7 linked regions of the Homo sapiens genome follow. The protein of the gene in region 1 interacts with the protein of each later gene in a pairwise test. Each region holds a gene or a part of one and is shown in the gene's direction. Other genes may lie near its edges. The genes, in order: MAP2K3, SMAD1, FGFR4, MAP3K5, ARNT, TERT and GLIS2.

The links.
Region 2: the proteins of MAP2K3 (region 1) and SMAD1 come close enough for resonance energy transfer, tested with the Homo sapiens proteins (one large-scale study listed by BioGRID).
Region 3: the proteins of MAP2K3 (region 1) and FGFR4 come close enough for resonance energy transfer, tested with the Homo sapiens proteins (2 studies listed by BioGRID).
Region 4: the proteins of MAP2K3 (region 1) and MAP3K5 interact in binary tests that used the Homo sapiens proteins (3 or more experiments, as listed by UniProt).
Region 5: the proteins of MAP2K3 (region 1) and ARNT come close enough for resonance energy transfer, tested with the Homo sapiens proteins (2 studies listed by BioGRID).
Region 6: the proteins of MAP2K3 (region 1) and TERT come close enough for resonance energy transfer, tested with the Homo sapiens proteins (one large-scale study listed by BioGRID).
Region 7: the proteins of MAP2K3 (region 1) and GLIS2 come close enough for resonance energy transfer, tested with the Homo sapiens proteins (one large-scale study listed by BioGRID).

Annotation. Positions count from the first base shown.
Region 1 is NC_000017.11:21,301,711-21,305,210, forward strand, and holds part of MAP2K3 (dual specificity mitogen-activated protein kinase kinase 3), read left to right. Parts: intron 1-432; coding exon 433-549; intron 550-1,472; coding exon 1,473-1,524; intron 1,525-2,715; coding exon 2,716-2,843; intron 2,844-3,340; coding exon 3,341-3,418; intron 3,419-3,500. UniProt on the Homo sapiens protein: Dual specificity kinase. Is activated by cytokines and environmental stress in vivo. Catalyzes the concomitant phosphorylation of a threonine and a tyrosine residue in the MAP kinase p38.
Region 2 is NC_000004.12:145,544,353-145,547,852, forward strand, and holds part of SMAD1 (mothers against decapentaplegic homolog 1), read left to right. Parts: intron 1-2,350; coding exon 2,351-2,572; intron 2,573-3,500. UniProt on the Homo sapiens protein: Transcriptional modulator that plays a role in various cellular processes, including embryonic development, cell differentiation, and tissue homeostasis.
Region 3 is NC_000005.10:177,089,915-177,093,414, forward strand, and holds part of FGFR4 (fibroblast growth factor receptor 4 isoform 1 precursor), read left to right. Parts: intron 1-475; coding exon 476-739; intron 740-830; coding exon 831-911; intron 912-1,023; coding exon 1,024-1,190; intron 1,191-1,770; coding exon 1,771-1,894; intron 1,895-2,406; coding exon 2,407-2,597; intron 2,598-2,731; coding exon 2,732-2,870; intron 2,871-3,223; coding exon 3,224-3,417; coding exon of another isoform or gene 3,418-3,491; coding exon 3,492-3,500. UniProt on the Homo sapiens protein: Tyrosine-protein kinase that acts as a cell-surface receptor for fibroblast growth factors and plays a role in the regulation of cell proliferation, differentiation and migration, and in regulation of lipid metabolism, bile acid biosynthesis, glucose uptake, vitamin D metabolism and phosphate homeostasis.
Region 4 is NC_000006.12:136,561,978-136,565,477, reverse strand, and holds part of MAP3K5 (mitogen-activated protein kinase kinase kinase 5), read left to right. Parts: intron 1-2,862; coding exon 2,863-2,975; intron 2,976-3,500. UniProt on the Homo sapiens protein: Serine/threonine kinase which acts as an essential component of the MAP kinase signal transduction pathway. Plays an important role in the cascades of cellular responses evoked by changes in the environment.
Region 5 is NC_000001.11:150,870,100-150,873,599, reverse strand, and holds part of ARNT (aryl hydrocarbon receptor nuclear translocator), read left to right. Parts: intron 1-3,500. UniProt on the Homo sapiens protein: Required for activity of the AHR. Upon ligand binding, AHR translocates into the nucleus, where it heterodimerizes with ARNT and induces transcription by binding to xenobiotic response elements (XRE).
Region 6 is NC_000005.10:1,285,069-1,288,568, reverse strand, and holds part of TERT (telomerase reverse transcriptase), read left to right. Parts: intron 1-3,500. UniProt on the Homo sapiens protein: Telomerase is a ribonucleoprotein enzyme essential for the replication of chromosome termini in most eukaryotes. Active in progenitor and cancer cells. Inactive, or very low activity, in normal somatic cells.
Region 7 is NC_000016.10:4,329,567-4,333,066, forward strand, and holds part of GLIS2 (zinc finger protein GLIS2), read left to right. Parts: intron 1-2,648; 5' UTR 2,649-2,714; coding exon 2,715-2,886; intron 2,887-3,500. UniProt on the Homo sapiens protein: Can act either as a transcriptional repressor or as a transcriptional activator, depending on the cell context. Acts as a repressor of the Hedgehog signaling pathway. Represses the Hedgehog-dependent expression of Wnt4.

The DNA of each region.
Region 1 (3,500 bases):
CCTCAGGAGTTCACTGGGGAAGAGGGAGCAGGTCCTTGCAGGCAGGGAGCCATCTGCCAGGGTCAGCTGGCATGAGGGTGTCTGTCGGTCAGCAGGGCCGGCTGTTGCCATGGAGCTGGTGCAGGTGCATCCTGAAGCTCTGGTGGAGGGACCCAGCGAGGCTGTGTGCTAATCCTCTTCCTCCCTGGAGACACCTGGAATTAGGGATCAGATAGAGGAGGCTGGCGCCCGAACCTGGCAGTGCAGGCAGAGTTGGAGGGTGGGGGAAGCGGGCAAGTGGGTGGTGGGTGGGAGCCCGGTGAACTGTGGCTGAGTGGGTGGGCACACGTCGGAGAGGGGGCTGGGGCTGGGGCTGGTGCTGGGGCAGGCAGTGCAGGTGGTGCAGACACGGGCAGCCCGGCAGCCTGGCTGAGCTCTGGGTGTCACCCACAGGGAGACGTGTGGATCTGCATGGAGCTCATGGACACATCCTTGGACAAGTTCTACCGGAAGGTGCTGGATAAAAACATGACAATTCCAGAGGACATCCTTGGGGAGATTGCTGTGTCTGTGAGTGGCCTGGGTGGGCTGGCGGGGGGTCCTAGGTGCATAGGCAGAGGCCCAGCCCTGCCAGCAGGCATGGAGCCTGCCTATTGATGGTGTCTTGGGCAGAGCTGGGCATCAATGTGCCCCCTGAACCTGGGCAGCTGCCCTGCATAGGCCCTTCTCCTCCACCCCAGACCAGAGCCTTTGTGCTTAGGAGACCTCCGCTCCTGGGGCTCCTGGAGCCCCACAGATTTGGCAGATCCAGGTGTCTGAGCCATTGATTCCAACTCTTGAGTTCCAGATCATTTTTTAAAAAAGGAATTTAGTATTTACAACAGCGTCATACTAAAAATGCCCCGGGGCAGCTCACAGAGGTACAAGCTAAGTTGGGGGAAAGGTTAGCATCCAAAATGTGTGCTTTTTGAGTCTAAAAAGTCCTTGAGGGAGGGCAGCAACACTGGGCTTGAGCATTCCAGTAGCCAAAGGAAAAAGGAAAATAGAACCAGTGAGACTGGTTCAATCCTCACTGCATCTGGAAACATTTACAATATACCCCTGCCTCAGGCTCCCCACCCAGCCTTCCCAAGGGAAATGGCTCCAAGCTGCTAGAATACTGGCTCTGCCACGGGAGGGGAGATGGGACAGGGAGGCTGCCAAGAGCTGGGTTTTACCCAAGAAGAGTGTGGCAGGCAGTGATGATGCCTCCCTGGGAGGTGAGCCCGGGAGGATGAGAGGAGGCAGGAGGCCGAGTGTGTCTGCACCAGGATTGTTAGGATGCTGGGGCAAATGCCAGGACAGGGCAGGAGGCTGGGATGAGAGGGTGCGTAGCCTGTGCAGCGGGAGCGGGAGACAGGTGGACATGGATGGGGTCTTACTGCTCTGTCGTTTTTGACGTGACCAGGAATAACAGAGTCCTGTCTCTTCCCTCCTCCCCACCCCACCGCCAGATCGTGCGGGCCCTGGAGCATCTGCACAGCAAGCTGTCGGTGATCCACAGAGGTCAGTGCCCGGCAGCCACCCAGGCACGGTGTAGCCAGTGGGAGGGATCCCAGGCCAAGGCGGGTGGACGTCTCCCTATGAGCAACTGTGGCTCCGAGAGGTGATAGGTTGTGACGTGCCCGATGGGGTTCCAGCCGCTTTCCACCTGCAGCCCTGCAGCTGCCTCCCCTCAGGTTTGCTGGTGCTCGAAGCAAGGACTGGCTTGACTTCTGTCCTGAGAAAGGTGGACTGGGTTCTGTTCTGATGTATAGTTTACAAATCGTGAAACTCCAGCATAGAGTGCATATAATCATGTTCACACCCATGCAACCACCTCCCTCCAAGATGCAGGACAATTCTCTCACCCCCTCCCAGAATGTTCTCTTGGGCTCCTTCCCTGCCATCCCCCATGTGCCTAAGGCACCCACAAGTCTGGTTTTCCCACAGTGGGTTGGTTTCGCCCTTTCTGGAACATCAGCCTCGCTTGATGTTTCTGGACCCACCTGGGTCTGGTGTGGTCTCAGTTTGTTCCTTTTTGCTGCTGAGCACAAGTCTATTTTTCCAGATTTACTGCTTTTCAAAAAATGAATTAGGCTTAGTTCCCATTGTCCACTGGGTGCCCATCCCAGCCCCCCAGGTCACTGTGGTTGGCGGTTGGCACGGAACCTTCTGGTCCTTTTTATGTGCATTTCCATCTTTACACACATCCCCATGGAGGGCACGGGGATGTGAGTGTCCTATGCGCATTTGTATGGAGAATCCCTGCTGGGCTGCTCTCCCATGCTGGTCTGTGGGGACTCCATGTCCAAACACGCAGATCCTGCCTCCCAGGCTTTAATTGATCCTGCTGCCCTCTGGGAGCACCCACACAAGCCAGGCTCTCACTGGACCTCATGTCTGGAGGGCGGATGCAGGCACGGTGCTCCCAGCAAAGCACCTGGAGTCCTGCCTTCCTTGCAGTGGCCGGGCCGGGCTGGGCACGTCCTGGCTGTTCCCTGAGGACCAAGTATGACTCTCAGCTGGCCCGGCACCTCTTGCAGCCTCAGTTCCCTGGTCTGACCCTTGGGACCCTGGTGCAACCTGCCCACTGGGGCATGGGAGGGGGCACAGGAGGGGTCTTGGGCGAGGGAGGGGGGCACAGCTATGCAGAGCATGGCACCTGCCTCCAGTCGTGCTCCACAGACGTGGCTGAGGCATGTCCCTCCCTGGCAGATGTGAAGCCCTCCAATGTCCTTATCAACAAGGAGGGCCATGTGAAGATGTGTGACTTTGGCATCAGTGGCTACTTGGTGGACTCTGTGGCCAAGACGATGGATGCCGGCTGCAAGCCCTACATGGCCGTGAGTGGTCCCCAAGCCCCCCAGGCTCAGGAGAGGATGGGGCGGGGAGAAATCTGCCCAGGCTGGCCACCCCGGCCATACCCTCTGTCCGTAGGGGCAGAGCCTCCCCACACTGCGTTTCCTGCTGTAGTGGGGCCACCTGTGTCTTGCTGCCCAGGGGCAGCCCTTCTGTACCCCGTTGTTAACTGACCCCCACAGTGCCCCAGTTGGGTGATAAGCTCATGGACCACCTCTGCGGAGGACACTGGTGGGCTGTGCAGGTCCCGCCCCGCCCTCATTGTCAGGAGGGCCTTAGGGGCCTGCTCCCGGGTAGGGTCAGACCGATGCAAGGGTTGGGCCTTCTAAGCATGACCCAGGCCCTCCTAGCCTCAGTTTCCTCCCCCGTCACATGGGCAGGTGGGCTAAGCTGAGCGCTCAGTTTGGGGATTGGGAGGCAAGGCCTAGCCATGGGGGCTTACCTGGGGCGGGTGTTCACGCCTCACTCTTCCCTCCTGCAGCCTGAGAGGATCAACCCAGAGCTGAACCAGAAGGGCTACAATGTCAAGTCCGACGTCTGGAGCCTGGGCATCACCATGGTACTGTGGGGGGCCAGGGCCTGCCCTTGGTGGTCAGGTGGGGTGGGTGGAGCCGTGCCTGGGGCCCTGAGCTTTTGGGGGA
Region 2 (3,500 bases), on another chromosome or scaffold:
GGTGGATCACCTGAGGTCAGGAGTTCAAGACCAGCCTGCCTAACATGGTGAAACCCTGTCTCTACTGCAGATGCAAAAATTAGCTGGGTGTGGTGGCGGGCCCCTGTTGTCCGAGCTACTTGGGAGGCTGAGGCAGGAGAATCACTTGAACCCAGGAGGCAGAGGTTGCAGTGAACTGAGATCACACCATTGCACTCCAGCCTGGGCAACAAGAGCAAAACTCAGTCTCAAAAAAAAAAAAGAAAAAAAAAATTGGTGATAAACTCAAAGGACCTTTCTTGGATGTGCAGTGTCATAAATTGGAATGTACACCACTTTAATCATTATGATTTTTTAAATCTTTTTTATTGCCTCTGTATTTTATGGTTCCTGATTATCTCTTGAACATCTTATCAAACATAATTCTGAGTCAATGAACACTCTGGTTGGGGGAAATAACCCCTATCTCACACATCTGTGGAATTTATATTTGGGGACCAGGATACCAGGAGAGAATAGGCACAGTACCACACTATTAGGAGCATGTGGACCCAGTAACTATTATTACTAAACCCAAAATGTCTGATTTCAGGAAACAGATCTTTAAATTGCTTTAAGATTTTTTTCATTTAAATAGCTTTAATTTTTTTTTCCTTTATAGTTTATAGTCAGTTAATATTTTCACGAGGAAGGAATGTTGGCCATTTTTTTTCTTCCCCCCGCTTTTTTTTTAACTTGTTTTTAACCTTTGGTGATTTTCCTAGAGCAGGGGTGAACAAACTACAGCCCACAGGCCAATTCAGCCTGCTATCTGTTTTTGTAAATAAAGCATTATTGGACCACAGCTGTATTCATTCATTACATATTGTCTATGACTGCTTCTGTGTTACAAGGGCAGAATTGGATAGTTGTGATAAAGATTATACAGCCCATAAAATCTTGCTGGCCTTTCACAGAAAAAATTCATCAACCTCTGACCTAGATGAATAGTATTTTGAAGTATCCTGATAGCTGATAAAAGCCTTCTGCTAATAATGTTGCAGTCTGCTTTAAGATTTGGCACTTGTAAATCACTAAAGTTTTGCTCTTTGAATTATAGCAAATTGATGTGGTAGAGTTGCTTAGCAAGCAGGGAAGATAGTGTATGTTTTTAGCTAACTACTTACATATGTAAAGCGACTAACTTATGTGTGGGTTTTTTCATGAGTATTTTCCTTGTTTTTTTTTTGTGTGTGTGTGTGTGTGTGTTTGTTATTGTTGTTTTGTTTTTTACCAAATTCTAAAGTAAAGTGCATTTTAGTATTTGTGGAATTTGATGTTAAGAACACAGAGGTGCTTCTCCCTTAGCAGTTGTAGTCTGGGCTTCTGATGTGGACTTTCTTTCTTTTCCTCCTTTTATTATTGTACACCCAAGACTTCATAAACCTCAGATCATTATATATTGGTATGCTGGAAATATATGGTTTGTATTCCTGGAATCTCTAAAGGAGTGGTACAAGAGGTTTTACTACAGAAGGAATTCATCTTTAAAACCTTTTAGTTGCAAATGTTTAGAACCATGTTCTGTTTGGAGATTTGTTAGTCTTAAGAGATTTGACTTAACAAGCTGCATCCTGTCAGTAAAGTTGGGTAATTTCCATTGTTGGCCCATTCTGGGAATGGAGAGACAAAACACACCTGCTCTGCATGACTTAAAGCAAATATAAGGAAGTTAGCATGAAATCTGGATGAGAAAGATATGATTCATTCTGTAAGAATGGCCAGCTGGCAAGATTTCTTCCTGAGTTTGAGAACTGGAGCAACACTGTAGCTGTGATAGTTATTGGCAACTTAATATGAGGTAAAGTAACTTCTTATCAATAATTAGAAACTGATTTTCATGGCTTTGAATAAGCATAGGCATACTTAGTCTTTGCCAAAAGTAATTCATTTTTATGCCAGTACCTTTGGCATATTTTCAGTCTTCTATTGTTCTCTTCCCACTTATTTTTTCACTTGTCACTTGTGTTTCTTTAGATGGTGAGCCAAAGTCTGTGGTAGGGGTGATTTCCATTTCTGCATATTACAGAGCAATTAGCATATTGTTAATATTCAGCAAAAGTTTTTGCTGTGCTTCCTTAGCTGGTGTTTTGGTTATCTGATAGTAATTGGAGAAAATTGTTCTCCAATTTTCTCCAATTAGGAGAATAAGGAGAGTGTCATATTAAGAAGTACCTGCTTTAAACATCATAGAAAAACTGTATACATTATAATAGCAATTGCTTTTCCAGTGTCTTCATTCCATGATCCTGAGCCAATTCAACAACACGGTTTCAGTTTTTGAGAGCCTGAGGCACTAACCTTGGTTGATATAACATTTTCTTTCCTCTAGATGTTCAGGCGGTTGCTTATGAGGAACCAAAACACTGGTGCTCTATTGTCTACTATGAGCTCAACAATCGTGTGGGTGAAGCGTTCCATGCCTCCTCCACAAGTGTGTTGGTGGATGGTTTCACTGATCCTTCCAACAATAAGAACCGTTTCTGCCTTGGGCTGCTCTCCAATGTTAACCGGAATTCCACTATTGAAAACACCAGGCGGCATATTGGAAAAGGTGAGTTTTTGCTTTAACCTCTTTCAGATGTTTATCTGTTGTGTCCCTGTTCCTCCAGAGCTGACTTAAAATCATTCCTGTAACAAACTGTTGTAGCAAAGACCAGGTAATGTTCACTTGCTGCAGTTTGTAAATATTTTTCCAGTTTCTGCTATCTGGAAGCTCTTGCAGTCAGTGATTTTTGTGGTCGATCAACTCATAATATTGAAATTAATTAGTTGAAATTATGATTTGCCATTTTAAGACACTATTCTGTATGATATTTTGCTGCAGAATAAATTGGCTGTTATAAAATGAATCACAACCTAAAATTAAAAGCAAATTACAGTTAATTGCTTAATTGTATTTCAAATGAATACCATAACTCAGTAAATAGAAAAGAAAGAACTAGATTTTAGCACAAACATCGTGCAAGGTGGCACGATAGAACCCTGCAGTGATTGTACCCCCACAGGGACACCAAATTGAACAACTGTCCATATAAGACAGCACCTTCAAAAGAACAAAAAATCAGGCATGGATATATTTATAATAAGAAAAAATAAAGACCAAAAAACAAGCCTAGTAAGTTATGAATATAGTAAGTGACTATATATCCTCAGCCTAGGCTGAGTGGAGTAGATAGAGTAGGGGTAGGATTTCAAATAAATCCCGAACTCTTTTTAGTAAACTTGATTATTTCATAGCAGTATGAGTGAAACCATTCTGAAACTTTCATATGTAAAGATGAAGCAAATGACTAAATGTGTGGATATTGTTGGGAGCTTGGGTTTCCACTGTGGAAAACAGACATATAAATGCGGAGGGGAGCAAAAAGTAAACCCTGTGAAGGAGAATAGAAGTATCAGTGCAAAATTCTGATTTTAGTAATACATATGTGTATGTATGTATGCATGTTTATGTTCTCATGTATTACGTATGTGTGTAT
Region 3 (3,500 bases), on another chromosome or scaffold:
CCCTAAGCTGGGCTGCAGAGCTGGTGGTGAGCTCCTTACCTGGGTGTGTGTGCGTGTGTGTGTGTGTTCTGTGCACTGGGTGTGTGACCTAGGAGGTCCAGGCAGCATGTGTGGTATAAGCATTATGAGGGTGATATGCCCCGGTGCAGCATGACCCTGTATGTGGCACCAACAGCATGTGCCTTGTGTGTGTGTGTGTCCGTATGTGTGTGTGTGTATGCGTGTGTGTGTGTGTGTGTGTCTTGGCCACTGTCGTGTGCACTAAATGCTGTGTGTGTGACATGCCCCAAGAGTGTGGCATTTGCCCTGGGTGTGGCATCCGCAGCATGTGGCTGTGTGGGTGTCAAGGAGTGGTGGCTCCTTCAGCATGCGTTGCAAAGTGCTTGTGCCCTGCATGTGCGGTGTGTTCTTTGTACACAGGAGGCTGCCTCAGATGGGGCTGCGGGGTCTGCTGACCTCTGCCCTCTGCCCACAGAGCCCTGCCTGGCTCCCAGCCTGGAGCAGCAAGAGCAGGAGCTGACAGTAGCCCTTGGGCAGCCTGTGCGTCTGTGCTGTGGGCGGGCTGAGCGTGGTGGCCACTGGTACAAGGAGGGCAGTCGCCTGGCACCTGCTGGCCGTGTACGGGGCTGGAGGGGCCGCCTAGAGATTGCCAGCTTCCTACCTGAGGATGCTGGCCGCTACCTCTGCCTGGCACGAGGCTCCATGATCGTCCTGCAGAATCTCACCTTGATTACAGGTGGTAAGAGACTCTAGCAGGGAGTGAAGGGATGCCTGGGGAGACAGACCTGCCCCTCTTGGACCTTAGATGCTTCCCTCTGTCCCTGATGTAGACTCCTTGACCTCCAGCAACGATGATGAGGACCCCAAGTCCCATAGGGACCCCTCGAATAGGCACAGTTACCCCCAGCAAGGTCAGTAGGTCTCCAAGGACTTGTGTCCCCGCTGCTGCTCATCTGATCACTGAGAAGAGGAGGCCTGTGTGGGAACACACGGTCATTCTAGGGGCCTTCCCCTGCCCTCCAGCACCCTACTGGACACACCCCCAGCGCATGGAGAAGAAACTGCATGCAGTACCTGCGGGGAACACCGTCAAGTTCCGCTGTCCAGCTGCAGGCAACCCCACGCCCACCATCCGCTGGCTTAAGGATGGACAGGCCTTTCATGGGGAGAACCGCATTGGAGGCATTCGGGTGAGTCTCTGGGTTCCAAGACCGTCTGCTCCCCCATTTTCATTCCTTCATCAGTCCCCTCATACCTACAAGCATACCTATAAATCAATCGAATGAGTGAAGCGATTGCGGGGCCCCGGAAGGAGCCCTGGACTGTGGACCTGGGCAGCTCTGGTTCCCCTTCTGCTACTCTCTGGCAAGTGACTTAACCTCTCAGCCTCAGCAACTCCATTTGTAAAGGGAGAAGAATCACTGACTGGTTGGTCTGCATAAGCCTTAGCATCTCATCGTCTTGATGAGACCCTGCAGGGTCGGCTCCATGCTGTCATGAGGCAACTGAGTCTCAGAGAAGGCAAGGGTTGGCTCAAAGTAGCACAGCTAGGGAGAGGGAGAGCTAAAATTCCAAAGGCTCAAACCCAAGGCTCAAGCGCCCTGGGGAGCCTACTCCTTTGTGCCATAGTCCTTGGCCTGGGCCTGATGTTCTCAGGGCCTAGAGAGCTTGACAAGAGCCCTGTGGGCAGGATGAGGATCTAGCCTCCTGGTCCTCTGGCCCCCTTGGTGGACATGGTCCGGTGGTCCCGGACACTCTCTCTGCCTGCAGCTGCGCCATCAGCACTGGAGTCTCGTGATGGAGAGCGTGGTGCCCTCGGACCGCGGCACATACACCTGCCTGGTAGAGAACGCTGTGGGCAGCATCCGCTATAACTACCTGCTAGATGTGCTGGGTGAGCGCGGGGCTGGGAACAGGGGAGGCCTGACCCATTTTGGGCTCAGTTGTGCCCTCTTGGTGGGGTCTAGTCTGGCAGGCAGGATGGACTCAGATGAGTCAGGCAGCTTGGTGAGCAGGTGGGTCAGGGGAAAGCACAGGGGTTAGTGTGGGGCTGGAGGAGCAGAGGTCTGCCAAGAGGAAAAACAAGAAGGACATCCAGGCAGAGGGCGCAGCCCGAGCGGAGGGCCTGAGTATAACAAACGCCCTGCACTTGCAGGCCAGCATATTCGTAGGGCGTGGCGTTTATATGGGGAGCCAGGTGGTGGAGGGTTTTGAATGCTAGGCTGAGATGTTGTCCTTGACCCGAAGCAATAGGGAGCCAGGGAAGGTTTAAGCAGGGTAAGCAGGAGACAGACAAGAAGCTGCAGAAAGGTCCCTCCCTTGAACTTGAGGAAGGCTGGAGGGAGGCAAACAGGGTGCTTCTATGGGTGCCGGTGGTCAGGGTTGACTGTCTCGCCCGGTCCCCAGAGCGGTCCCCGCACCGGCCCATCCTGCAGGCCGGGCTCCCGGCCAACACCACAGCCGTGGTGGGCAGCGACGTGGAGCTGCTGTGCAAGGTGTACAGCGATGCCCAGCCCCACATCCAGTGGCTGAAGCACATCGTCATCAACGGCAGCAGCTTCGGAGCCGACGGTTTCCCCTATGTGCAAGTCCTAAAGGTAAAAGGTGCACCCTGCTGCAGCCTGGGCCCCATTCTTCTCCCACCTTGGGTTGGGGGGCTCCCCAGCTTCCCTGTTGGCCACAGTGTGGCCCCAGGCCCTGCTGTGACCCCAGAGCATGTCCCCCACCCCAGACTGCAGACATCAATAGCTCAGAGGTGGAGGTCCTGTACCTGCGGAACGTGTCAGCCGAGGACGCAGGCGAGTACACCTGCCTCGCAGGCAATTCCATCGGCCTCTCCTACCAGTCTGCCTGGCTCACGGTGCTGCCAGGTGAGCACCTGAAGGGCCAGGAGATGCTGCGAGATGCCCCTCTGGGCCAGCAGTGGGGGCTGTGGCCTGTTGGGTGGTCAGTCTCTGTTGGCCTGTGGGGTCTGGCCTGGGGGGCAGTGTGTGGATTTGTGGGTTTGAGCTGTATGACAGCCCCTCTGTGCCTCTCCACACGTGGCCGTCCATGTGACCGTCTGCTGAGGTGTGGGTGCCTGGGACTGGGCATAACTACAGCTTCCTCCGTGTGTGTCCCCACATATGTTGGGAGCTGGGAGGGACTGAGTTAGGGTGCACGGGGCGGCCAGTCTCACCACTGACCAGTTTGTCTGTCTGTGTGTGTCCATGTGCGAGGGCAGAGGAGGACCCCACATGGACCGCAGCAGCGCCCGAGGCCAGGTATACGGACATCATCCTGTACGCGTCGGGCTCCCTGGCCTTGGCTGTGCTCCTGCTGCTGGCCGGGCTGTATCGAGGGCAGGCGCTCCACGGCCGGCACCCCCGCCCGCCCGCCACTGTGCAGAAGCTCTCCCGCTTCCCTCTGGCCCGACAGGTACTGGGCGCATCCCCCACCTCACATGTGACAGCCTGACTCCAGCAGGCAGAACCAAGTCTCCCACTTTGCAGTTCTCCCTG
Region 4 (3,500 bases), on another chromosome or scaffold:
CCTGGGTGACAGAGCAAGACCCTATCTCAAAAACAAAAACAAAAACCTGTCTCAAGAGGAGCTGCCTGTTTATTTAATTTCCCCATCCTACAGTTCTGGAATTACCCACCAATCCACCTCATCACCCCTGCCCATCCAAGGTTAAAAATTGACCTCATGGCAGATCCTGCCATACTTTTTTGGAACAGAAAGGCAGACAGTTGCCTTGATTTCAAAATATTGCCCTGCTAAATAAACACAAAATAAAAATAAAATTGATGTACTGGATTGTTCTTAAGATAAATACTTCTAAGAGCTGGATTCGGAGCAAATGAGGTGGGCTGTCAATACTCTGCTTCCAGTGTTGAAGTTCTGGTGTTTAAGGTGTTAAAAGAAAGCTTCAGACAAATTAAATTTAATGGAGTTTAATTGAAAAAGAAAAAAATAGTTTGTGAATCAGGTGGCCTCTAGAATCACAGCAGATTCAGAGAGATTCCAGGGATGCCTCGTGGCCAGAACAAATTTATAGAAAATAAAAGTAAAGTGACGTACAGAAATCAGAAGTGTGCAGAAAGAGCTGGATTTGTTATGGGTTGGCGTTCACCTTATTTGAACACTCAGCAGTGTATGAGTGGTTGAAGTATGGCTCCTGGGATTAGCCAAGACTCAGCTATTGTTATAGACGCATACTCCTAAGTTAGGTTTTCAATCTTGTCTACCTGTTAAGTTATAGTTTGTCCACGAGGACTCAAATATGCAAGTACGGAGTCCTTCTCAGGCCATATTTCATTCACTTTAACAAAAGATAAAAAGAAATTACATAGTCTAGACAAACATAGGTTAAACTCTAGAAAACATCACTGTGTTCCTTGAGAAAACAGTAAGAAGATACCATCACTGTCTTATACGTATAAATTAGCAAGTAGGACAAAAATACATACCAGATCAAAAAACTGCCAACTTAAACATTCACACAGAGCTTCCTGCCCATTTCTTTGGATAATATTTGTTTTGAAAGAGATAAGAAGCCTCCCTCCAAGACCCTGTGCTCCCTCTTCTAGCTTTCAGTTCATGCTGCTTCATCCACCTCATTGTGCACCACACTTACCCTGCAGCTGTCTTTGTTAACTTATTTTCCTCCACCCACCTTCTCTGTCTACCTCTTATTGTGTTTTACTTTTGTCCCACCTCTGCTACCTACTCTGCTGTGATCCCTTCTCTCTGAGGATCTCATCTTTATGTCCTGTGGGAATGGGGTCGAGCCTGGGGGTCTGGGAAGGTTTCCTTCCCACTGAGTCCTGGAAAGGCTCTTTTCCAGGGACTGAGGTAGCAAGGAACAGAACATCCCTTATTAAAGACCAGACACTGACTTGGCACTGTACCTATGCTGTCTCATTTAATGCTCACAATAATCTTTTCTGGAAGCTTTAGTTTTCTTTTTTACAAATGATTTGAAAACTGAAGCCTGGAGGCATTAGGTAATTTATCTAAGGTTAACACAGGAAGTGCAGGGTTGAACCAGGACACAAGCCCAGATCTGTCAGTTGCACGATGCTGCCTTCAGATTATGTCAAGTGAAGCAGAAACAAACTCTTGAGTTAAATCTATCAATACTCAGAAAATGAAACAAATAGAGTTTGTTAAGAGCTGTAGTTTATGCAACGATTTATCCTGATAATCTTAATAACGATATATTTTAAATTATTATTTCTGAATCCAACTTACATTAAGATACTTTTCTAAAAAATTAGAGCACCTCTTTTCATAACTTGGAATGTTTTCTTTGAGAAATTCTATTGGAAATGGTGAGTAGGTTACCAGTTGGCTCTCAGTTGCATAGTGAACCTTCTATGGGTAAGAACTTTGGTATGAATATCACAGTTTCTCCTTGTTTCTTTGGAGACTGCATCAGATGCCAACTAGGAACTGAATGTACCAGGAACACAGCTATCCTTTTACCCACTTCACCCCCGCCCCCTTAGAAGGAAGAGGAATAATAGTAACAATCACAATTGTAGCAACAACCGTGAACATTTACTGAGAATTTGTTATATGCCAGATATTCTAGGCGACCTCACCTATGACTGTTTCTCAAATTTTCATAGTTTACAAAAAGTGATTACTTTTCTGATTTGCATTGATTATGAAATTATGCACATTTGCCAACTTTTTTTAATGGGGGTCCATACATGTAAAATATAGGCCTGTTAATATCTGTATCCCATATTTATATCTTTGACATTTATGGTCATAACAAGAAATATCAGGACACATCTCTGAAGATTTTGGCAGACAATCTGTGGTGGAGGTTTTGAATTCTTGTCGGCAAGCACAGTCTTCCAAAGCTTAGCTTCTGGACCTGAGGGTCTGTGAACCTGCAACATCAGTGTCATCTGGGAGCTCATTATAAATACAGTCTCAGAACTCACCCCCGGGGCACTGGACCAGTATCTGTATTTCAATAAAATTAGGGGTGTATGTGCTTATTATAGCTCATGTCTAGAAGGTCATCCTAGGCCTGGCACAGTGGCACATGCACACACCTATAATCCCAGAGCTTTGAGAGGCTGAGGTGGAAAGACCACTGGAGGCCAGGAGTTCAGAGACCAGCTTGGACAACATAGCAAGACTCTGTCTCTACAAAAAAAAAAAAAAAAAAAATTAGCCAGGCATGGTGGTGCATGTCTGTATTCCCAGCTGCTTGGAAAACTGAGATGGGAGGATCGCTTGAGTCCAAGAGTTTAAGGATGCAGTGAGCTATAATTGGGCCACTACACTCAGCCTAGGCAACAGAGAGAGACCTTGTATCTAAAAAAATAAAAATAAAAAAAAGAAGGTCACCCTGTGTCACCTCCTGTCAAACAATATATTTTTCTTCTGCAGATTACTGGAAGAATTGGTTCGGAAAGAGAAAGAATTACAAGCACTCCTTCATCGAGCTATTGAAGAAAAAGACCAAGAAATTAAACACCTGAAGCTTAAGTCCCAACCCATAGGTGAATAGCAGAAAGTTTTATAGTAATACTGTTCAGCCAGGCTGCCACAAAAAGCCAAGAAAGCCAACAGGAAGTTTTATTTGTGGCTAAGTCAGCATTTCTCACTTCTACCATGACTGCAAGCAGGAATTCCTTTAAAAAAAAAAAATCCAGTTTTTAACTGTAGCAAACTCATTTCTTATAAGTGCAGTAAAAATAGATTATTCATAATCATCTTTTCCTGAGATTATGTATTACTGAGGTAAACAGGGCTCTCTGTTTTTAGTCTTTATTTTTAAAGATTTCACAATGAGCTTACTAGAATAAATAATACTATTTTTTGTCATTTTGCATTTATATTCTGTGTATTCTAGCCTTTTTCCTTATAATTTGAAGAGGCTTAAATAGAATAAAGATGTAGTAGTAAAAAGGCATAGCTGGGGAGAATGTTATTTAGCCCATTTAGAGGAAAACAGAATTCATAGTTATTTGTTTAGATATGTGGCTCTTTCATAGTGGAAAAAGAGATTATGATAATTATATAGT
Region 5 (3,500 bases), on another chromosome or scaffold:
TTAATTGTGCTGGTGGCCCTGCAGTGTTTTTCAAGGGGACCACGTTCTTCTGCATTTTTCACTGTGGTGCTGCATTAGAAGAAGAGTAAAATATGGTTGGTACTCTCTAAGAGTTGTGTTGAAGTAATAGTTCTGTGATGATTTTTTTTCTCGAATTGATAATTCTTCATATTCTATCATTTTTCACTAGTTCTACTTATCACTGGCAAGTAGAACTCGGTGGGTAGGTGGTCCATGAAACTTTAGGCTGTTTCTTATCTATGGACTAGACAAGTTTTGTTTTGTTTTTTTTTTGTTTGTTTGTTTGTTTTGAGACAGAGTCTCACTCTGTCGCCCAGGCTGGAGTGCAGTGGTGCTATCTTGGCTCACTGCAAGCTCCGCCTCCCAGGTTCACGCCATTCTCCTGCCTCAGCCTCCCGAGTAGCTGGGACTACAGGTACCCGCCACCACGCCCGGCTAATTTTTTTTTTTGTATTTTTAGTAGAGACAGGGTTTCACCCTGTTAGCCAGGGTGGTCTCGATCTCCTGACCTTGTGATCCGCCTGCCTCGGCCTCCCAAAGTGCTGGGATTACAGGCTTGAGTCACCGTGCCCGGCCCGGACTAGACAAGTTTTGAGGAACACATTTTTTTTCCCCATAGGAGAGGGTCTTGCTCTGTCACTGAGGCTGGAGTGCAGTGACACAATCATGGCTCACTGCAGCCTTGACCTTCTGGGAGCATGTGATCCTCCCACTTCAGCCTCCTGAGTAGGTGGGACCACAGGTGTGCACCACCGTGGCTGGCTAATTTTAAATTTTTTTTAGAGACAGGGTCTTGCTATGTTGCCCAGGCTGGTCTTTAACTCCTGGCCTCAAGTGATCTTCCTGCGTTGGGCACTCCCCAAGAGCTGGGATTATAGGCATGACCACCATGCCCAGCCAAGGTGGAACACTTTTTAAATTGAATGTGTCATTTGTAATGCATTGGCTGAGGGAACAGTTGGGAGGAGATTAGGTATTTGATTTACAATTCCAAATTCAAACTAGAGATGTTGAATGAGTTTGTAGTAAGTGTAGGTTTTTATCTCTCTTGATTCTGGTATTCTCATTAGCAGAGAATTCTTTTTGTGCTATTATGTACAAGTTACTGTGGATGAAGAATGTAGAAGGAAAAGGGTAATACCGTTTGGGTTTGTAAGGCTGTCATTTAGGAAGAAAATTTTTTTTAGCTAATTTTCACCTATATAACTTAGTTTTAACTGCGTCAATTAACACAATTCTTACCTGTTACCTTTATTTACCTTTTTCAGATATGGGAAAATAGGAATTCATGCAATGTAAAGTTAAGATGTCAAGATATTCTTTTATGGCCAGGTGTGGTGGCTCGTGCCTCTAATCCCTTTGGGAGGCCGAGGCAGGCCGATTGCTTGAGCCCAGGAATTTGAGACCAGCCCGGACAACGTGACGAAACCCCTTTACTACAAAAAATACAAAAAATTTTCCGGGCACTGTGGTGCACTTCTATAGTCCCAGCTACTTGGGAGGCTGAGATGGGAGTATCACCTGAGCCTGGAAAGTTGAAGCTGCAGTGAGCTGTGATCATGCCACTGTACTCCAGCCTGGGTGTTGGAGTGAGACCCTGTCCCCCAACAAAAAAAGAGATAGTATTTTATTATATTGCAAAGGCCTTTTTTTTTTTTTTTTTTTTTTTTTGAGACAGGGTCTTACTGTGTCGCCCAGGCTGGAGTGCAATGGCGTGATCTTGGCTCACTGCAACCTCCGCCTCCTGGGTTCAAGCTATTCTCCCGCCTCAGCCTCCCGAGTAGCTGGGATTACAGGCACCTGCCATCACGCCGGCTAATTTTTTATTTTTAATAGAGACAGGGTTTCTCCATGTTGGCCAGGCTGGTCTTGAACTCCTCACCTCAGGTGATCCGCCCACCTTGGCCTCCCAAAGTGCTGGGATTACAGGCGTGAGCCGCCATGCTCCGCCGCCATCTGTTTTTAAGAATGCTGCCTTGGCCGGGCATGGTGGCTCATGCCTGTAATCCTAGCATTTTGGGAGGCCGAAGTGGGCAGATCACCTGAGGTCAGGAGTTCAAGACCAGCCTGGCCAACATGGAGAAACCCTGTCTCTACTAAAAATACAAAAATTAGCCAGGCATGGTGGCAGGTGCCTGTAATCCCAGCTACTCGGGAGGCTGAGGCGGGAGAATCGCTTGAACCTGGAAGGTGGTGGTTGCAGTGAGCTGAGATCGTACCACTGCACTCTAGCCTGGGCGACAGAGTGAGACTCCGTCTAAAAAAAAAAAAAAAAAAAAAAAAACCACGACTGCCTAATATGCCATAATGACTTTAGTAAGTAGACATCAGTGAATCTTCAGGTTGGAAATATGACAACACCTATCATTTTACACTTAAGGAGACAAACCCAGGGAAAGGAGTGGATAATTAAGTTCCTTCTATATGCCAGGCTGCACTTTCCTATTTTGTTGCTAATCTTTATGTCTAGTCTGTAGCAACTGTCTCCAACTTTTCACATAAACTCTTCAAATTTATGTCACTTTTCATAATTTCGTCAATGTATTTTCTTGTTTTAAAGTTTTTATTATTTTAGATAGTGACCGGGTCTCACTATATTGCCCCGGCTGGTCTCAAACTCCTGGGCTCAAGCAATCCTCCTGCCTCGGCCTCCCAGAGTGCCGGGGTTACAGGTGTGAGCCACCCTCTGAGGCCCATTTTATATTTTCCCTCCACGTTTTCATTGTAGTTGAATGGACAAGTAAGTTTATGGATTCAACAGTATACTTAGGGCTGGACATGGTGGCTCATACCTGTAATCCTAGCACTTTGGGAGGCTGATGTAGGTGGATTGCTTGAGCCCAAAAGTTTGAGACCAGCCTGGGCAACGTGGTGAAACCCCATCTGTACAAAAAAATACAAAAAATTAGCAGGGTGTGGTAGCATTCCCTGTAGTCCCAGCTACGTGGGAGACTGAGATGCGAGGATGACCTGAGCCTGGGAGGTTGAGGCTGCAGTGAGCCATGATTGTGCCACTGCATTCCTGTCTGGGTGACTAGGAGACAGAGTGAGACCCTGTCTCAAAAAACACAACAAAACCAGCATACTTAGGATATAAGTTCCATGAGAGCAGAACTTTTGCTTTCCTTGTTTACCAGAGCATTGCAGTGCTTACAGTGGGTGCCTAGTATGTTGGATTAGAGTTCAATGTATGTTTGTGGAATAAAAATGAATGTAAAACCCACTGTTAATATGAAATACCTTTGAAGGGATAAAACTAATTAAGCCATTGACATCATGAATTTGTACTAACTATAATAATATCTAATATTTATTAGTAATACTTACCAGCTGTTCTCATTTAATTTTTATAACAATCGTATTAGGTAAGTATTATTATTCTTGTTTTACAGATGAGGAAACTAAGGCACAGAGAGTGAATAAGTAACTTGTCTGAAGTCACATAGCTACTAGAAGTTAGAGACAGAATTTTATTGTTG
Region 6 (3,500 bases), on another chromosome or scaffold:
GGCACCTGCCGCTCATTGCTTAGGCTGGGCTCTGCCTCCAGTCGCCCCCTCACATGGATTGACGTCCAGCCACAGGTTGGAGTGTCTCTGTCTGTCTCCTGCTCTGAGACCCACGTGGAGGGCCGGTGTCTCCGCCAGCCTTCGTCAGACTTCCCTCTTGGGTCTTAGTTTTGAATTTCACTGATTTACCTCTGACGTTTCTATCTCTCCATTGTATGCTTTTTCTTGGTTTATTCTTTCATTCCTTTTCTAGCTTCTTAGTTTAGTCATGCCTTTCCCTCTAAGTGCTGCCTTACCTGCACCCTGTGTTTTGATGTGAAGTAATCTCAACATCAGCCACTTTCAAGTGTTCTTAAAATACTTCAAAGTGTTAATACTTCTTTTAAGTATTCTTATTCTGTGATTTTTTTCTTTGTGCACGCTGTGTTTTGACGTGAAATCATTTTGATATCAGTGACTTTTAAGTATTCTTTAGCTTATTCTGTGATTTCTTTGAGCAGTGAGTTATTTGAACACTGTTTATGTTCAAGATATGTAGAGTATCAAGATACGTAGAGTATTTTAAGTTATCATTTTATTATTGATTTCTAACTCAGTTGTGTAGTGGTCTGTATAATACCAATTATTTGAAGTTTGCGGAGCCTTGCTTTGTGATCTAGTGTGTGCATGGTTTCCAGAACTGTCCATTGTAAATTTGACATCCTGTCAATAGTGGGCATGCATGTTCACTATATCCAGCTTATTAAGGTCCAGTGCAAAGCTTCTGTCTCCTTCTAGATGCATGAAATTCCAAGAAGGAGGCCATAGTCCCTCACCTGGGGGATGGGTCTGTTCATTTCTTCTCGTTTGGTAGCATTTATGTGAGGCATTGTTAGGTGCATGCACGTGGTAGAATTTTTATCTTCCTGATGAGTGAATCTTTTGGAGACTTCTATGTCTCTAGTAATCTAGTAATTCTTTTTTTAAATTGCTCTTAGTACTGCCACACTGGGCTTCTTTTGATTAGTATTTTCCTGCTGTGTCTGTTTTCTGCCTTTAATTTATATATATATATATATATTTTTTTTTTTTGAGACAGAGTCTTGGTCTGTCGCCCAGGGTGAGTGCAGTGGTGTGATCACAGGTCAGTGTAACTTTTACCTTCTGGCCTGAGCCGTCCTCTCACCTCAGCCTCCTGAATAGCTGGAACTGCAGACACGCACCGCTACACCTGGCTAATTTTTAAATTTTTTCTGGAGACAGGGTCTTGCTGTGTTGCCCAGGCTGGTCTCAAACTCTTGGACTCAAGGGATCCATCTACCTCGGCTTCCCAAAGTGCTGAATTACAGGCATGAGCCACCATGTCTGGCCTAATTTTCAACACTTTTATATTCTTATAGTGTGGGTATGTCCTGTTAACAGCATGTAGGTGAATTTCCAATCCAGTCTGACAGTCGTTGTTTAACTGGATAACCTGATTTATTTTCATTTTTTTGTCACTAGAGACCCGCCTGGTGCACTCTGATTCTCCACTTGCCTGTTGCATGTCCTCGTTCCCTTGTTTCTCACCACCTCTTGGGTTGCCATGTGCGTTTCCTGCCGAGTGTGTGTTGATCCTCTCGTTGCCTCCTGGTCACTGGGCATTTGCTTTTATTTCTCTTTGCTTAGTGTTACCCCCTGATCTTTTTATTGTCGTTGTTTGCTTTTGTTTATTGAGACAGTCTCACTCTGTCACCCAGGCTGGAGTGTAATGGCACAATCTCGGCTCACTGCAACCTCTGCCTCCTCGGTTCAAGCAGTTCTCATTCCTCAACCTCATGAGTAGCTGGGATTACAGGCGCCCACCACCACGCCTGGCTAATTTTTGTATTTTTAGTAGAGATAGGCTTTCACCATGTTGGCCAGGCTGGTCTCAAACTCCTGACCTCAAGTGATCTGCCCGCCTTGGCCTCCCACAGTGCTGGGATTACAGGTGCAAGCCACCGTGCCCGGCATACCTTGATCTTTTAAAATGAAGTCTGAAACATTGCTACCCTTGTCCTGAGCAATAAGACCCTTAGTGTATTTTAGCTCTGGCCACCCCCCAGCCTGTGTGCTGTTTTCCCTGCTGACTTAGTTCTATCTCAGGCATCTTGACACCCCCACAAGCTAAGCATTATTAATATTGTTTTCCGTGTTGAGTGTTTCTGTAGCTTTGCCCCCGCCCTGCTTTTCCTCCTTTGTTCCCCGTCTGTCTTCTGTCTCAGGCCCGCCGTCTGGGGTCCCCTTCCTTGTCCTTTGCGTGGTTCTTCTGTCTTGTTATTGCTGGTAAACCCCAGCTTTACCTGTGCTGGCCTCCATGGCATCTAGCGACGTCCGGGGACCTCTGCTTATGATGCACAGATGAAGATGTGGAGACTCACGAGGAGGGCGGTCATCTTGGCCCGTGAGTGTCTGGAGCACCACGTGGCCAGCGTTCCTTAGCCAGTGAGTGACAGCAACGTCCGCTCGGCCTGGGTTCAGCCTGGAAAACCCCAGGCATGTCGGGGTCTGGTGGCTCCGCGGTGTCGAGTTTGAAATCGCGCAAACCTGCGGTGTGGCGCCAGCTCTGACGGTGCTGCCTGGCGGGGGAGTGTCTGCTTCCTCCCTTCTGCTTGGGAACCAGGACAAAGGATGAGGCTCCGAGCCGTTGTCGCCCAACAGGAGCATGACGTGAGCCATGTGGATAATTTTAAAATTTCTAGGCTGGGCGCGGTGGCTCACGCCTGTAATCCCAGCACTTTGGGAGGCCAAGGCGGGTGGATCACGAGGTCAGGAGGTCGAGACCATCCTGGCCAACATGATGAAACCCCATCTGTACTAAAAACACAAAAATTAGCTGGGCGTGGTGGCGGGTGCCTGTAATCCCAGCTACTCGGGAGGCTGAGGCAGGAGAATTGCTTGAACCTGGGAGTTGGAAGTTGCAGTGAGCCGACATTGCACCACTGCACTCCAGCCTGGCAACACAGCGAGACTCTGTCTCAAAAAAAAAAAAAAAAAAAAAAATTCTAGTAGCCACATTAAAAAAGTAAAAAAGAAAAGGTGAAATTAATGTAATAATAGATTTTACTGAAGCCCAGCATGTCCACACCTCATCATTTTAGGGTGTTATTGGTGGGAGCATCACTCACAGGACATTTGACATTTTTTGAGCTTTGTCTGCGGGATCCCGTGTGTAGGTCCCGTGCGTGGCCATCTCGGCCTGGACCTGCTGGGCTTCCCATGGCCATGGCTGTTGTACCAGATGGTGCAGGTCCGGGATGAGGTCGCCAGGCCCTCAGTGAGCTGGATGTGCAGTGTCCGGATGGTGCACGTCTGGGATGAGGTCGCCAGGCCCTGCTGTGAGCTGGATGTGTGGTGTCTGGATGGTGCAGGTCAGGGGTGAGGTCTCCAGGCCCTCGGTGAGCTGGAGGTATGGAGTCCGGATGATGCAGGTCCGGGGTGAGGTCGCCAGGCCCTGCTGTGAGCTGGATGTGTGGTGTCTGGATGGTGCAGGTCAGGGG
Region 7 (3,500 bases), on another chromosome or scaffold:
GGACCATTTTATGCCCTACTTGCTTGGAGAGTCAGGGCAGAAGGGGAGGACGTGGGAGCTGCCTTCCTGTCCTGCCCTGTGGACAGCATCTCTCCCCACTCACAGGCTATGCTAGCCCCCAGGGAAACACACGGGGGCATATCCAAAGTATTTCACCATGTAGTAGTTATGTCCACCATGGCCGCCCTTTGGTATTGAGTAAAGACCCCAATACCGCGAAAGACGGGATCTCACAGCGTGATTGTGCGGCAGTTAGATTTTCAAGTTGTAATAATCCCAATGAACAAACGCAAGGAAATGTCGTGTTTAACCGCGTAGGAAAAGATTGCTGCTCTGAATGTGAAGTTTGGGTTTAGAATGAAGTGTTGACCTTGTTCTTGGGTCGGTGGATACTGTTAGATCATTTGCATGTGAGGAAAATTACACCAGGTGGGGCGAGGTGGCTCACACCTGTAATCACAGCACTTTGGGAGGCCGAGGTGGGCAGATCACCTGAGGTCAGGAGTTTGAGACCAGCCTGGCCAACATGGTGAAACGCTGTCGCTACTAAAAATAGAAAAATTAGCTGGGTGTGATGGTGTACACCTGTAATCCCAGCTACTTGGGAGGCTGAGGCAGGACAATCGCTTGAACTCGGGAGGCAGAGGTTGCAGTGAGCCCAGATCACACCACTGCACTCCAGCCTGGGTGACTGAGAGACTCCATTTCCAAAAAGAAAATGAAAATTAAACCAGTGAGAAATTCTAAGAAAAATGATGAAAATTACAGCATGGGAAGTGATACTAAAAGAATACCATCTCCAGTAAAAAATAATTTCTACATATTTATATATTAACCGCCAGATACAGCTGGTCAACTCCACCAACCCTGCCCCAGCTGGCCAGGCCAGGCCACAATCCCCAGCTGCCCCCTGGTGGCGACCCAGCGCCCTGGGGCTCCCTGGCTTGCGATGCCTCTCCTCTAGGCCTCTGCAGGGAGGGCGGTGGGGCCCCTGGCTGTGCCCACTTTCTCGGTTTGCCTGGTGCGAGTTCCTTGGTGGTGAGCGTGGCTACCTGCCGGCCATTTCAGAGGATGCTCCTTGCCCCCTGGCCTGGTTCTAGATCTTTGGGGTCAAACAGGGCGGGAGTCCGGAGCATGGCTCCTGCTCTGTCAGAAAAGGCTGTTAGGACACGGCTAGCCAGTTCCCGGGAGATCTGGCTTCAGGCCTTGAATCTTGTTGGGAACAGGCCCCCCAAAATCTGGCTGTAAACTAGCCCCAAAACTGGCCATAAATAAAATCTCTGCAGCGCTGTGACATGTTCATGATGGCCATGACGCCCACGCTGGAAGGTTGTAGGTTTACCAGAATGAGGGCAAGGAACACCTGGCCCACCCAGGGCGGAAAAACTGCTTAAAAGCGTTTGGCTTTTTGTTTGTTTGTTTGTTTTTGAGACGGAGTCTTGCTCTGTCGCCCAGGCTGGAGTGCAGTGGTGCGATCTCGGCTCACTGCAAGCTCTGCGTCCCGGGTTCACACCATTCTCCTGCCTCAGCCTCCCGAGTAGCTGGGACTACAGGCGCCCGCCACCACACCTGGCTAATTTTTTTTTTTGTTATTTAATAGAGTTGGGGTTTCAGCGTGTTAGCCAGGATGGTCTCTATCTCCTGACCTCGTGATCTCCCCGCCTTGGCCTCCCAAAGTGCTGGGATTACAGGTGTGAGTTACTGCGCCCGGCCACAGGCGTTCTTGAACCACAAACAATGGCATGAGTGATCTGTGCCTTAAGGACACGCTCCTGCTGCAGATAACTAGCCAGACCCATCCCTTTATTTCCCATAAGGAATACTTTCAGTTAGTCTATAATCTATAGAAACTATGCTAATGACTGGCTTGCTGTCAATAAATACGTGGGTAAATCTCTGTTCAAGGCTCTCAGCTCTGAAGGCTGTGAGACCCCTGATTTCCCACCCCACACCGCTATATTTCTGCGTATGTGTCTTTAATTCCTCTAGCGCCGCCGGATTAGTCTCCCGACCGAGCTGGTCTTGGCAAATCTGATAGTTTTTCCACTTCTGAGCTCTGCGATCTGAGGCGATGCCTGTAAAAGACGCAGTTTCGCCAAGCGTGGTGGCTCAGGCATGTAGTCCCAGCGTTTTGGGAGGCCAAGGCAGGAGGATCGCTTGAGGCCAGGAGTTCGAGATCAGTTTGGGCAACATGGAGAGACCCGATCTCTACAAAAAAGAAAATTTTTTTTTTTAATTAGCCAGGAGCGGTGCCTGCCTGTAGTCCCAGCTACCAGGGAGGCTGAGGTGGGAGGATCGCTTGAGCCTAGGAGGTCGAGGCTGCAGTGAGCTATGATTGTGCCACTTGCACTCCAGCCTGAGTGACAGAGCGAGACTCTGTCAGCAAATAAAATTCAGTTTCATGGCAAAATGAAGAATGTGAGCTTTGTCTTCCCCAAGAGACTCATGGGAAGCAGATGCGGAATCTCTGAGGAGGCTGTTGGCTCTCCCCCCATGATAGCTGCCGGCCAGGTCGCTCGGAGGGTCTCCCTACCCAGGAGACAACCTCACACTGCCCCCTGCTCCTGCTCCTGTTAGACTGTCATGAGTACAGCCCGAGGAGAAGCCTGGGGTCTCAGTGCCACAGCACAGCTCCTGTCCTTCCCCAGGTTCCTGCGTGAAGACCAGCTGGGAGCCCACTGCCTGCTGCCACCTCCAACTCCGGCCCCCTCACCATGCACTCCCTGGACGAGCCGCTCGACCTGAAGCTGAGTATCACCAAGCTCCGGGCGGCAAGAGAGAAGCGGGAGAGGACGCTGGGTGTGGTCCGGCCCCGTGCTCTGCACAGGGAGCTGGGCCTGGTGGATGACAGCCCCACACCTGGCTCTCCAGGCTCCCCGCCCTCAGGTACTGGCCCTGGGCAGGGCAGGGGGACTTAGCCCTGATCCAGTCATGGTGACAGGGAGAATGGCCAAGTGTGTCCACCAGCATGTAGCTGCAGCCCCTCTCGGCTTCCGGTTCATGGGAAGCCCGCACGCTTGTCCTTCCATCCGCCCAGCATCGTATGTCTGCAGGGAGGTGGGAGCTGCAGTGCCCAGCTCACGTGGCTGGCACACGATGCAAACTGAGGCCTCTAGGCAGATCTGGAACAGAGCTGGTCGGGCAACCAGGCATTCAGAAGGAGCGGCAGTAGTCCCAGGACCTGCACCCTAGGCTGTGGGGTGGTGCCGCTGGCCAACCTGGGCAGTAGAGGCTGGGTCTGAGCCCAGGAGGTGCCTCTCAGGGATTCCCGGTGCTTGGGCCCAGGGTGGTGGGCACCACTTCTGCCCTGCCTCCAAGAGCAGAGTCACCCGAAAACCAGATTCACCGCTTGTCTGAAGGGGAAGGCTATGGGAGCAGCCCAGCCCGAACCTGCCACTTTACAGAAGGGAACACTGAGGCAGGAAGGGGCCTGGGAAAAGCTAGAAAGGTTCCTACCTGCCCGTCTGACAGGGACCCAGGGGCCCTGGGTTCGAGTCCTG